2 separate regions of the Homo sapiens genome follow, and region 1 is linked to region 2. Evidence: fine-mapped expression QTL. A gene starts in region 2. The other region holds a variant in brackets. All regions are shown on one strand. Distances are between the middles of the regions. Region 1 holds the start of LOC124905112 (a long non-coding RNA gene). Region 2 holds the start of IFT27 (intraflagellar transport 27).

Region 1 (5,367 bases), 30 kb after region 2:
AGTCTTTTTTGCCTCCTGGCTCATTGCCTCATTGTAGATTCCAACAGCAGCAACCTTGCCCAGGGGCAAGCTGAATGCAAGGTACAAGCAGGGGCTTGAACCCCTGTGAGCCACACTGTGCTCCCAGAATCTCCCCCAAAGCCTCTTCCAGCGTGTTTCCTCTCACTCAACCTTCACAGCCACCCCAGGAAGCCAAGGCAACTGTTTTACGTTACGGCTGAGGACGCAATGGGCCCATGACCTGCGTTCCCCAGTGCAGGCTCCTAGCGATGTCACAGCTACCGTCAGACTCTGTGAATCTCAGGAAACCTCCAGAGGAAGGTCAGGCCCTTCCCAACCACCTCCCTGCAGGTGCTTGCTGATCTCAGGGGCAGAAGGTGGTGACGGTCGAGAAGCAATGTGGGGCGGTTTCACCTGCACGCGGCACCCAAGGCTTTGGAATCACACAGCCTCTGGGTGCGAGTCTTTGCTCAGCTCTACCTCACTGAGTGGCCTTGGACAAGTCACTTCGCCTCTCTGGGCCCTAACATCACCTACTTCAGATGTTTGCTGAGGGTTCACAGCCTGGCGATAGCTGCAGACCCCCCAGCCCCTGCTGAGTGGGACACTCGCCGCTCACCCTATTGTTTCGGTTGTTGCCGCTGCTGTTGTGACCCTATCCTGGATAATCCCAGGGGTGGAGTCTGCTGCCCTCCACCCTTCGTCCAAAGGAGCTCTGGGACTAGGAGGCCTGGGTCCCCGGTGAGTGACCCCTGGGAAGAGTGGCTTGCCATGGCCCCAGAGAGGACTGGAGAGAGGCCCAGCAGGGGCTAGGAGGCCTGAGCCCAGTCGGTCTCTTGCCCTGGCTGAGAGCGCCTTTGCCTTGGGGCCTCTGGCATGACACTAGTGGGTTAGCAATCCCTGGAGTCCTCGCGTCTCTCACTTCTTTGGGTTTCCACGCACAGCGTGCAGGCAAGAAGCGTTTAAGGAGCAGCCTCGACACAGAGCCCCTGTGTCTCAACAGGCCCTGGCTTTTTGACCACCAGCCACCAGCCAGGCCCCGCTGTAGGTGCAGGGGCTTAAGAGCTGGACAGGGCAGATGAGCCTCCTACTCCTTGCTCCATGGAGCACACAAGCTGGTGAGGGAGAGAGACAATAAGTCAGTTTGCAATCCCGTAGAAAACCACAGGTTGTAAAAATCACTGGAAAGAAAAGAACAGAACCCTCTATACAAGACTCCAAAGGAGTCTTAGCAGGGAGGAGGTGTCCAGCAGCAGCCTCTCTGTGGAGACATGAAGGAGCAGGAGTCAGGCAGTGAACGGGGAGTTGTACATTAGCCAGAGGAAATAGCATGTTTGAGGGTCCTGCGGCAGAGGAGGTTGGCCCACAAAAGGCCAGAACTCCTGGGCACTGAGTGAAGGGAGCACGGGGAAAAGAGTTTCCAGCCGAGCGCAGTGGCTCACACCTGTAATCCCAGCACTTTGGGAGGCTGAGGCGGGTGGATCACTGGAGGTCAAGAGTTCAAGACCAACTTGGCCAACATGGTGAAACTCCAACTCTACTAAAAACACAAAAATTAGTTGGGCGCGGTGGCGGGCGTCTGTAATCCTAGCTACTTGGGAAGCTGAGGCAGGAGAATTGCTTGAACCTGGGAGGTGGAGGTTGCAGTGAGCCGGAATTACGCCACTGCAGTCCAGCCTGGGTGACAGGGTAAGACTCCATCTCAAAAAATAAAATAAATAAAATAAACTAATAAAATAAATAAGAAGAGGCATCAGAAGCCCAGCCAGAGCTTGGGAGTTACCTGATGTGCAGGGGGAGGCCGCTGAAGGGTGTTGGTTGAGGGAGGGGGTGATGTAATTTTGGAGTTGGAGTTAAGGGATTGGGTGTCCTCACGGTTTCCCTCATTCATGCCTTCACTCATGAGACAGTTACAGAGCACCAAGGCTCAGCGAGGTGCAGGACTGGCCTGGGGCGGGGGGTGAGGGGAACCTGTGCTGTCTGACCCCCCAGCAGCCTCTCCAGGGCCTCCTCGGCTGGGCTGATAGACCTGTGTTTTAGCTTGAACCTCTGTCCACCACCCTTCAGGGAGGACCTCACACACGCCTTGGCCGGCGTGTGATGGGCACTCCTAGGAGGCATGTGGTGTGAGCCAGAGTCGGATTGGAACTCAGGATGGGAACAACGCCTGCACAAGGAGAACGTCCATAAACAGCTGCAGAAGACCAAAAGGGAGGGGTGGAGGAGGGAGTCCTCCCTCCACCATTGCTGTTGTTATGACCCAGCCACTCCCTGGGGGCTCACTCCCTCTGGAAAATGGTAGGTTAGAAAAGACCAGTGATTCTCTCTCTTTCTCTTTTGCTTTTTTTTTTT[A/TTA]AGAGACCAAGTCTCGCTATATTGCCCAGGCTGATCTTGAGCGCCTGACCTCAAGCAGTCCTCCTGCCTCAGCCTCCCGAGTAGCTGAGATCACAGGTGCATGCCACTGCGCCCAGCTTGACATTGATTCTATGATAACAGCAGCCCGTGGAATGGTGGAAGCAGCCAGACACACTTGGGAATTACCTTGGGTGAGTCTATTGGAACCTCAGCTTCCCCATCTGTAAAATGGGATGGTTGTTACTCCCTTGCTGGGCCACTGTGAAGGTGAGACGTGCCGTAGGAGCACGCCGAGCACATAGTGGGGGCCTGGCCAGGGCAGCTGTTCTCACTGCATTTCAGAGGGGGTGGCTACAGCAGTCCCCAGCCTGCAGCAGGAGCTCTCAGCAGAGCCCCCTTCTCTGTCCTCACCCTTCTGGAGTTGCCACATGTTCCCTTCTCTTGCAGCCTCTGGGACTCCCAACTCCCGAGAGAGTGGCAGACACCAGGATATGGCGGTGTTGCCCAGGGCTGAGCCTTGAGGTAAAGTAGGGATCCCACTCCTCCCCCACACAGCATGGGCAGCCTTGGGGCCTCATGCAAGACGGGCCCGGCACCAGCCCCTACCGGGTTGCAAAAGCAGTGCAAAGGCCCAAAGAAAGGTGAGTAATGGAGGGAGGGAGAGCCACGTGGGTCAGGGGGGCTCCAAGATCCCTGGACTGCCAGTGCTGGGTGGAGCAGGGAGATGCCTTCACCTACCCAAACCTCAAATCACATGGATGGGAAGATACAGGCCCAAGCTGTCCCAGTGCACAACCCTCGCAGCTCACACACTATGTCAGCTTCCCTTCTCTCCCTCCCTTCCTTGTGCAGGGCAGGGCTACTTTAGGGCTGAGGCAGGGAGGCTCAGAGAGGTGCAGAGACTTGCCCCAGCCACATGGCTGGCAGTGCGCCTCTGATCAGCACTTCCTCTGTGCCAGGCTTCCACCTCCTTCATCTTCTTTAATCCTTGCAACAACCTTTCAAGGTGGGAGTGATTTGTTTTTTGTTTTGTGTGTGTGTGTGTGTGTTTTTTTTTTAGACAGAGTCTTGCTCTGTCGCCCAGGCTGGAGTGCAGTGGCACGATCTCCGCTCACTACAACCTCTACCTCCTGGGTTCAAGTGATTCTCCTGCCTTAACTTCCTGAGTAGCTGGGACTACAGGCACATGCCACTGCGCCCGGCTAATTTTTGTACTTTTAGTAGAGACGGGGTTTCACCGTGTTAGGGTCTCGAACTCCTGACTTCAGGTGATCCGCCTGCCTCGGCCTCCCAAAGTACTGGGATTACAGGTGTGAGCCACCGCACCCGGCCGGTGGGAGTGATTTTGCCCATTTTACAGATGAGGAAGCTGAGGCTCAGAAAGGTGAAGCTGATTACTCTCGCATGCAGGGAGTGGGACTCGCATAGAACCTTTATTCATTTGCTCACAAAGAAGCAGCTCAAGCAGACAAGCAGGTGCCCGGGAAGGACCCTGTGGCTGGAGATGCTGGAGGAAAGGCCTGCAGAGAAACTGCTGTCCTTCAGGGCCTGTCCCAGGGTAAAAGGAAGACCCAGGTCATAAACACTGTGAACCGGGGGAGCTGGAACCCCTAGCCTGGAGGGTTGGAGAAAAAGTCCCCCAAGAAGGGTGGAGGGAGGGCTTCTGAAGTGGGGCAAGGGGCCAGTAATAACCCAAGGAAGCAGCTACTGAAGACCAGGCACATAGTAAGCCCCCAGCAAATTCCAGTTCCCTTCTGCTCCTCCCTAGGGACACCAGTCCTGCCGACACCTCAAGCCACACACTCAGGGGCTCAACGTGCAGTCAGGAGCTCCCCGAGGTGACTGCAGGGTGGCCAATGCCCCTTGCCACTCTCCTACCACTTTCCCCCACTCCAGTCCTGCCTCAGCTTCACCAGAGCCCCCAGGATCCGTGTCCCCTGCACCCTGCATGACTGGACGCCTGGGTCATATCACACCACAGTTTGCCACACCTGACTGCACGGCGCCCCTGGCCAGCCAAGCTGGTCAACACCTCCAGGACAGCGGCCAAGGCAGTGGAACCCAGCAGAGGTGGAGGAGAAGGTAGGACCAGCAGACCCTCCTGACCCTGTTCTGATCGCACTCACTTACAAGGCCATCTGCTCGGCAGTGCGGCGAGCTCAGGGCACTGGGGCAGACAGTGGCACCCGCCCAGACACGTGCTCGCCTCTGGGGCCTGGCCGGCTGCTGGTCAGGAGGTCTGGCTGGCCTTCTTGCTGCAGCTCCCAGCCTGGCCAGGCTGCAGGGGTGCCTGGCTCCCCAGCCCACACTGTCCCCAGGCCAGAGACCCTGAGGTGGGAGTATGGAGGGTCTCCATGACCTAAGAGGAAGGGGAAGGGGTTTGGGGAGGGGAGGGACAGAGGCAGGCAGTGCATGTCCTCCTTAGGACACACACTGTGTCCTGGTCTGCATGTGGACCCCAGGGCTCTGGAGATCACGAAGAGCTCAGTGGCCCCTGCCCGGCAGGTCCCCAGGGCCCCCTAGAATGACCACCGAAGCCTCCTAATCACCTCCTTACATCTGCTTGGACCCTTTTAATCCAGGTTCGCCTAGGTCTCCAGGGTGCCTGTGTTCTCACGTCATAACATGTCACCCTGCCTGTCTAAAGCCTTCAGAGGCCTCCCGTGCCCCTAGTTAGTGACCCAAATCCTTGCCCTGGTGTGCACGCACCTCACCAGGCTCATCTCGCCTCACTACCCCCACCGCCATCTCCTGGCTGTCTGTGTCACACACACACACACACACACACACGCATTTTTGGCACTTTCATTTCAAAGACCTTCCTTCAGTTTTGTTTTTCCTGGCTACTCTGTGTTAACTTCTTTGCGCCTCAGTTCCTTCATCCAGCAAATGGGATACTTAATAGTTTCTTAGTTTTGTTTCCTCCAAAGACAGACCCTGAGATAAGTGTTCAGGGACAAGTAGTTTCTCTTGGAGGTTGCCCCAAAAGTAGCATGGAGGGGTGGAGAAGTGAGA
Region 2 (5,367 bases):
TTAAACTAATTAATCCCTAAAATCACTTAGAACAAGGCCAGCCTTAAGTCTGTGGTCAACATAGGCCAGCTGTGACTATTAGAGCTGCTCAGAAATGGGATAACTCGAATTGCTCAGGAGCCCCCATGGCTCCAAAATTCTCTGACCACCTTAAACCTAGTGACTCTCATTCAGCTTACCTTCAGTCACAGAAATGTATAGAAGGCCCTTGGGTCCATGAGGTGAAGGGGGACAGAATTCACCATACAAGTGTTTACCATCTCTCTAGAAAGTTCTACAATGCTCTTATGATAATGCTGACTAAAATCACACAGAGTAGCAGCAACAAAAGGGAGACAGTGGGTGGGGAACAGAGAACAGCCCTGGGAGGGAGGTGTGATTATTACCTGCAAGAGTTAAAGAAAGAGGCAAGAAACATGAAAAGTGGCTCAACAGTTAAATACAGGTTTATTTTGGAGCATAAACCTGAGAGGGGCTTCTGGCCAATTTCAGTCAGGAGTGCTCTCTCTTACAGACTAAGAGTATTTAAGGGTTTAGGGCAAGAGAGCTTACCACAGGCTTGGAATGTTTCTGTGTGGAGGAGAAGTTTACTGTGGGGTTGGAATGTCTCCGGTCTGAGGGTGGGTTATGTTGGGGCTGACATCTCTCTGACCAGAGGGGAGGTTATCTTGGGGCTGCATGTCTCTGGTCGGGGGGTGGGTTTATCTTAGGGTTGGAATGTTTCTGATTGGAGATGTCACTTGTGGTTTATGGTCATTCTGACATTAGCCATTAGGCTGATGCCCTTTGGGTTGAATTTAGGCCGTTTTTGATCAAGGAGAACTTTAAAATGGCAGTGCTTGTCCAAGATGGCTATGCTCCGGCTCTGTCATTACCCACCTCGCAAAATGAAGGAACCAAGGCTTCGGAGGCTGCCCTGATGTGTGTCTGTGTCTTAGCTACGTGGAGCTGCCTCGGGAGGGTGACTCACCAAATGGGGTCCTTTAAGGGATTAACAGGGTCACTCATGGTGAACAGGTTGGCCTGGAGGGGAGCCGGCAAGAGGAAGGCAGAAGACCAGAAAGAGGCTTTTTGCTCACTCAGACCTGGATGTCTGAGACAGACTCACGTGATGTCACCAAAGAAGAAAAGCAGTTACGAGAAATGAAGGAGAAACAGACCTTTACCGTAGCGCCAGGAATGAATCCCAAGGAAAGAACATCTCAGACAACTTGCATTTACTCTGGATTCGGGGCTGAAACCATCAGCCATTCATAGAGTGTGTGTGTTTATTCCCCCACACAAGGCTGGCAGCCACTCTGAGATGCAGAGTGGCGGAGAGGTGGAATGTTCTAGGTGTCTGGAGGGAATGTGGAACTTTCGCACAGGCACCTTTGCTGAGGGGCTGCTCTTCCCTTCAGCATCAGCCATCAGAATCCCAGGGGCCCTGAGAAAGTGAGAACAAGGGGTACATTCGGCCAACCAGTGACAGTGATGATAAACCAAATCTGTCCAGATAAGCTTCCGCTCTCCCATCCACCCCACAATCACGTGTGCACCTACTATCTCCCAGGCACTCATACGTTTCTCTCCTTCCATCTCCACAACCACCCCACAAGGCGGGTTCTCCTAGGCCCATCCTGAGGCTGAGGGATGAGGTGACTTGTCCAGGCCAGGGATTTAGGTCTCTGACCCCCTAACCACGTGCAAGAGGCACCCCCAACCCAGTAAACGCGTACAGAGAGCCTCCCTGGGTGACGGGCAAACGAGGTTAGTGATGCATTCTCCTTTTGCAGAGAGTAAATGGACTAAGAGCAAAGTACGACTTCAAGTTTCCGAGTCTCACCGCTTAGCCCCATCAAAGTGTATTTGTTCTCCCTTTGTTCACAAACATCACTTTAATAAAACACCTTCATATTTTAGATTTTAACGCTCATTACATCTTTGAGCTTTTAAAATGAGATTTCCCTGCGGGATGCGGGGCAAGGACTGCACTTCTCCATGCACTTTAATAGCCGCGCTGTGCAGAACCCGGGAACCGGGGAAGCCGCGAGAACCGCGCGAAGTCAGAGCAAGTCAAAACGACCTCTACAGCGGCGGCCTGGCCCACTGCGCAGGCGCCGCTCCAGACCGCCTAGAGCCCAACCTGCCCCATTGTAGGCGAACCCACTTCTAGAAGGACAGCGGGAGTGGCGAATCCCTATTCCTCCCGAAGATGGGTCAAGCCAGACTCTGACCAATCAGAAAGCTTCTCTTGTCACCGCTTCTGACTGCTTGACGTGGAGGCTTCTTTATCTCGGGACTCTCAGGCGCAGCGGGGGCGGGATATAAAGCTGGTTGACGTCAATTACAACCACTCGTCAAGCAGACTGAACTTGAAGAACTGATAACTCTACGAATTGCATCTCAAGAAAAGGCTGTTATCCCAGCTCTCTACTCCCATTGGATTTTTGTGAGACCTTGAGGGTGGGAGCTTTTGGCGGCAACCAATCGAGGGTCAGCGAGGAGGAGGAGGAGGCGGGGCAGGTGGGCTATGGTTGCTTGGAGAGTGCATCCGGCCCGGTACTTGTGATCGGAGGAGAGCCGGATCGTCCTTCCTTGAACCCTCTGGGTAGGGCTGTGCTGAGGGGCTGGGCGGGGAGCACAGGCCGTGTCCGCTCGCTTGCACCTTTTCAGACTGCCGTGTCAGGCCTCGAGCCGGGCCCACCTGGAGCCCTCCCCTGCCCACCCGCCCCCAGCGCCCGATATCCGCCCCCGGCCCAGAAGGGCCGGGCTCGGTCATCCCCAGTCCCGTCGCGGCCACTGACCCTTGAGATCAGCCCTCCCCTCCCCACCTTCCCGTCCCAGGCCAGCCCAGGGCCCGAAGCCCACCCACTCGCGTCTCTAGCAGCCGCTCTTGTCCTCTGGGTACGGCTCGCGGGAGTGTTGGTTACCATGGTGAAGCTGGCAGCCAAATGCATCCTGGCAGGTGAGTCTGAAAACTTGCGCTTGAATACGGTGGTCTCTGGAGTCCAGAGCCTTCATAATTCATCCAGAGCTTTTGTTCACCTAAATTGCCTACCTTTTCCTTTCTCTCTCCCAAAGGCGAGTTACTGCAATTACTGATACAGTAAATTACGTTAGGCGTGGAAGAATGATCTTCCAGGGCACTTCGCAGCTCCAGTGGATTTCCCCCTGCTCCCTGTCACATACTCTGAGACCACCTTCACCAGTTGAGGTGACTCGTTAAAAAATCACTAGTTACAACTCTGGAGAAGCAGACTTGTTAAAACAAAACAAAACAAACAAAGCTTAAGCAAACCTTGAGTGCTTCAGCTAAACATATACTGTACCCCAAAGTTAGGCATCAGTGACTTTGGTAGTCTTTACTATGGGATTTTTCCCCCGACCTCACCCCCTCTGATAACGGTGACCTGAGTGTAGTGACCAGAGTTTGCAAAAGGCACTTGTGTGTTGTCTTTAAGACCCAAAGTTACTGTGCTGCCCCACTCCAAGAAGGGCATAAATGTTGAGTCTCCCAAAGGCAGGAATCTTTGTTTTGTTGACTGATACATCCCAAGCACCCAGAACAATGCCTGGAACATAGTAGGTACTCAATAAATACTTTTAGAATGGATGAATATGTGAATATGTGGCATGCACATTTGTAGTGTACCCCTTGTATCAGTCTGCACATTTAGAAAAACAATATTTTGGATTATAGACTGCGAAACACATATGCATGTTACTGAGTGCTTACTGCATGTGAAGCACACATATTTCATGTAATCGTCTCACCATAGCACACTGGGCTAGGTACTGGATTGTTTTTCTTTTTTTTTTTTTTTTTTGAGACGGAGTCTCACGCTGTTGCCCAGGCTGGAGGGCAGTGGCGCAATCTCGGCTCACTGCAACCTCCACCTCCCTGGTTCAAGCAATTCCCCTGCCTCAGCCTCCCAAGTAGCTGGGATTACAGGCGCAAGCCACCATGCCCGGCTAATTTTTTTTTGTATTTTTAATAGAGCTGGGGTTTCACCATGTTGGCCAGACTGGTCTCGAACTCCTGACTTCAGGTGATCCACCCACCTCGGCCTCCCAAAGTGCTGGGATTACAGGCATGAGCCACTGCGCCCGGCCAGGTACTGGATTGTTCTGATCTTACTGAGGCACTGAGAGATGTCAGCCAAGGTCAACCCCTAGTGAAGGCCCTATGCAGGATTTCAGCCCCTAGATCTGGCCAACTCCAAAACTCTTAACTCGTGTTTCTGTTGAAACCTGTGACCTTTCCAGGCTTCCCTGGCCAGCTCAGGAAAGAAGTGGTGAGAAATTATATAGAGAAAAAGAGATTCCTGTTTTAAAAAATTCCCCTCTTCCAGACTGAGAATAAATGATAATATTTTTAATGGCTTTTATAATTTGAAAATAAAAGGGTCACACAGAAAGATGACTGACAGTAGTAACTGAATCATACTGGAGCAAAATAAATTAATGGTTCTCAGGAGAATCTCCAGTTTCCAGAGCACCAGAGGAGGCAGTGTTGTGTAACAAAAGTAATTTTGCCTGTTCCTCTTATTGGCTGTGTCATCTTGGACGAAGCACTTTTTGAGCTTTAATTTCCTTATGGATAAGGTGGGAACATTATTTTCTGAAGTTACTTTTTTTTTTAAATGGGCTTCTCTCTGGGTTCTTTTTAAATTCGGTTTTCATCATGGAGCTAACTTACTGGCGCTTTGGGTGCATCAGCTCTGCTAGACCCTCAATACAGGTGGTCTCATTGAATCCTCATAGCAACCCTGTGGGATTGGCATTATTGCCATCCTCATTTACAGATGAGGCAACTGAGGCCCAGAAAAATGAGAACATTTGCCATGGGTCACAGAGCTGGAAGTGGCAGAGCTGTATGATCCAGACCCTGGGTCCCAATCTGATTTCCAGGGCTTTAGCCCAAGCTACTCTGTCCTCAAGTAGTGCTCCTCTGTGTCCTTCTATTTTTTTTTTTTTTTTTTTTGAGACGGAGTTTCACTCTCATTGCCTAAGCTGGAGTGCAATGGCACAATCTCAGCTCACTGCAACCTCCACCTCCTGGGTTCAAGCGATTCTTCTGCCTCAGCCTCCCAAGTAGCTGGGATTACAGGCGCCCACCACCATACCCAGCTAATTTTTTGTATTTTTTAGTGGAGACTGGGTTTCACCATGTTAGCCAGGCTGGTCTTGAACTCCTGACGTCAGGTGATCTGCCCGCCTCGGCCTCCCAAAGTGCTGGGATTACAGGCGTGAGTCACTGTGCCCGGACCTTTTTTTTTGAGGCGTAATTTCACTCTGTCTCCCAGGCTGGAGTGCAGTGGTGCACAACCTTAGCTCACTGCAACTTCCACCTCCTGGGTTTAAATGATTCCCTGCCTCAGCCTC

What was found. PIP is the estimated chance that this variant, and not a neighbour inherited with it, causes the effect. A credible set is the group of variants that fine-mapping cannot tell apart.
Region 1: its variant is the best candidate, but not a certain one, in a credible set for the expression of IFT27 in whole blood (INTERVAL, PIP 0.65).

The regions. Positions count from the first base shown.
Region 1 is chr22:36,743,355-36,748,721 of GRCh38, reverse strand. The region is part of intron 2 of CACNG2-DT (CACNG2 divergent transcript); the gene reads right to left. LOC124905112 (a long non-coding RNA gene) reads left to right here and starts at 2,381. Exons shown (of 3, transcript XR_007068090.1): 1 at 2,381-2,543; 2 at 2,800-3,910; 3 at 4,121-4,547. The variant A/TTA (reference allele first, on the strand shown) is at 2,353.
Region 2 is chr22:36,773,254-36,778,620 of GRCh38, reverse strand. IFT27 (intraflagellar transport 27) reads left to right here and starts at 2,502. Exons shown (of 7, transcript NM_001177701.3): 1 at 2,502-2,947. The coding sequence starts at 2,914. RefSeq lists enhancers at 1,110-1,673, 2,201-2,460, 2,239-2,802 and silencers at 2,701-2,750, 2,881-2,940.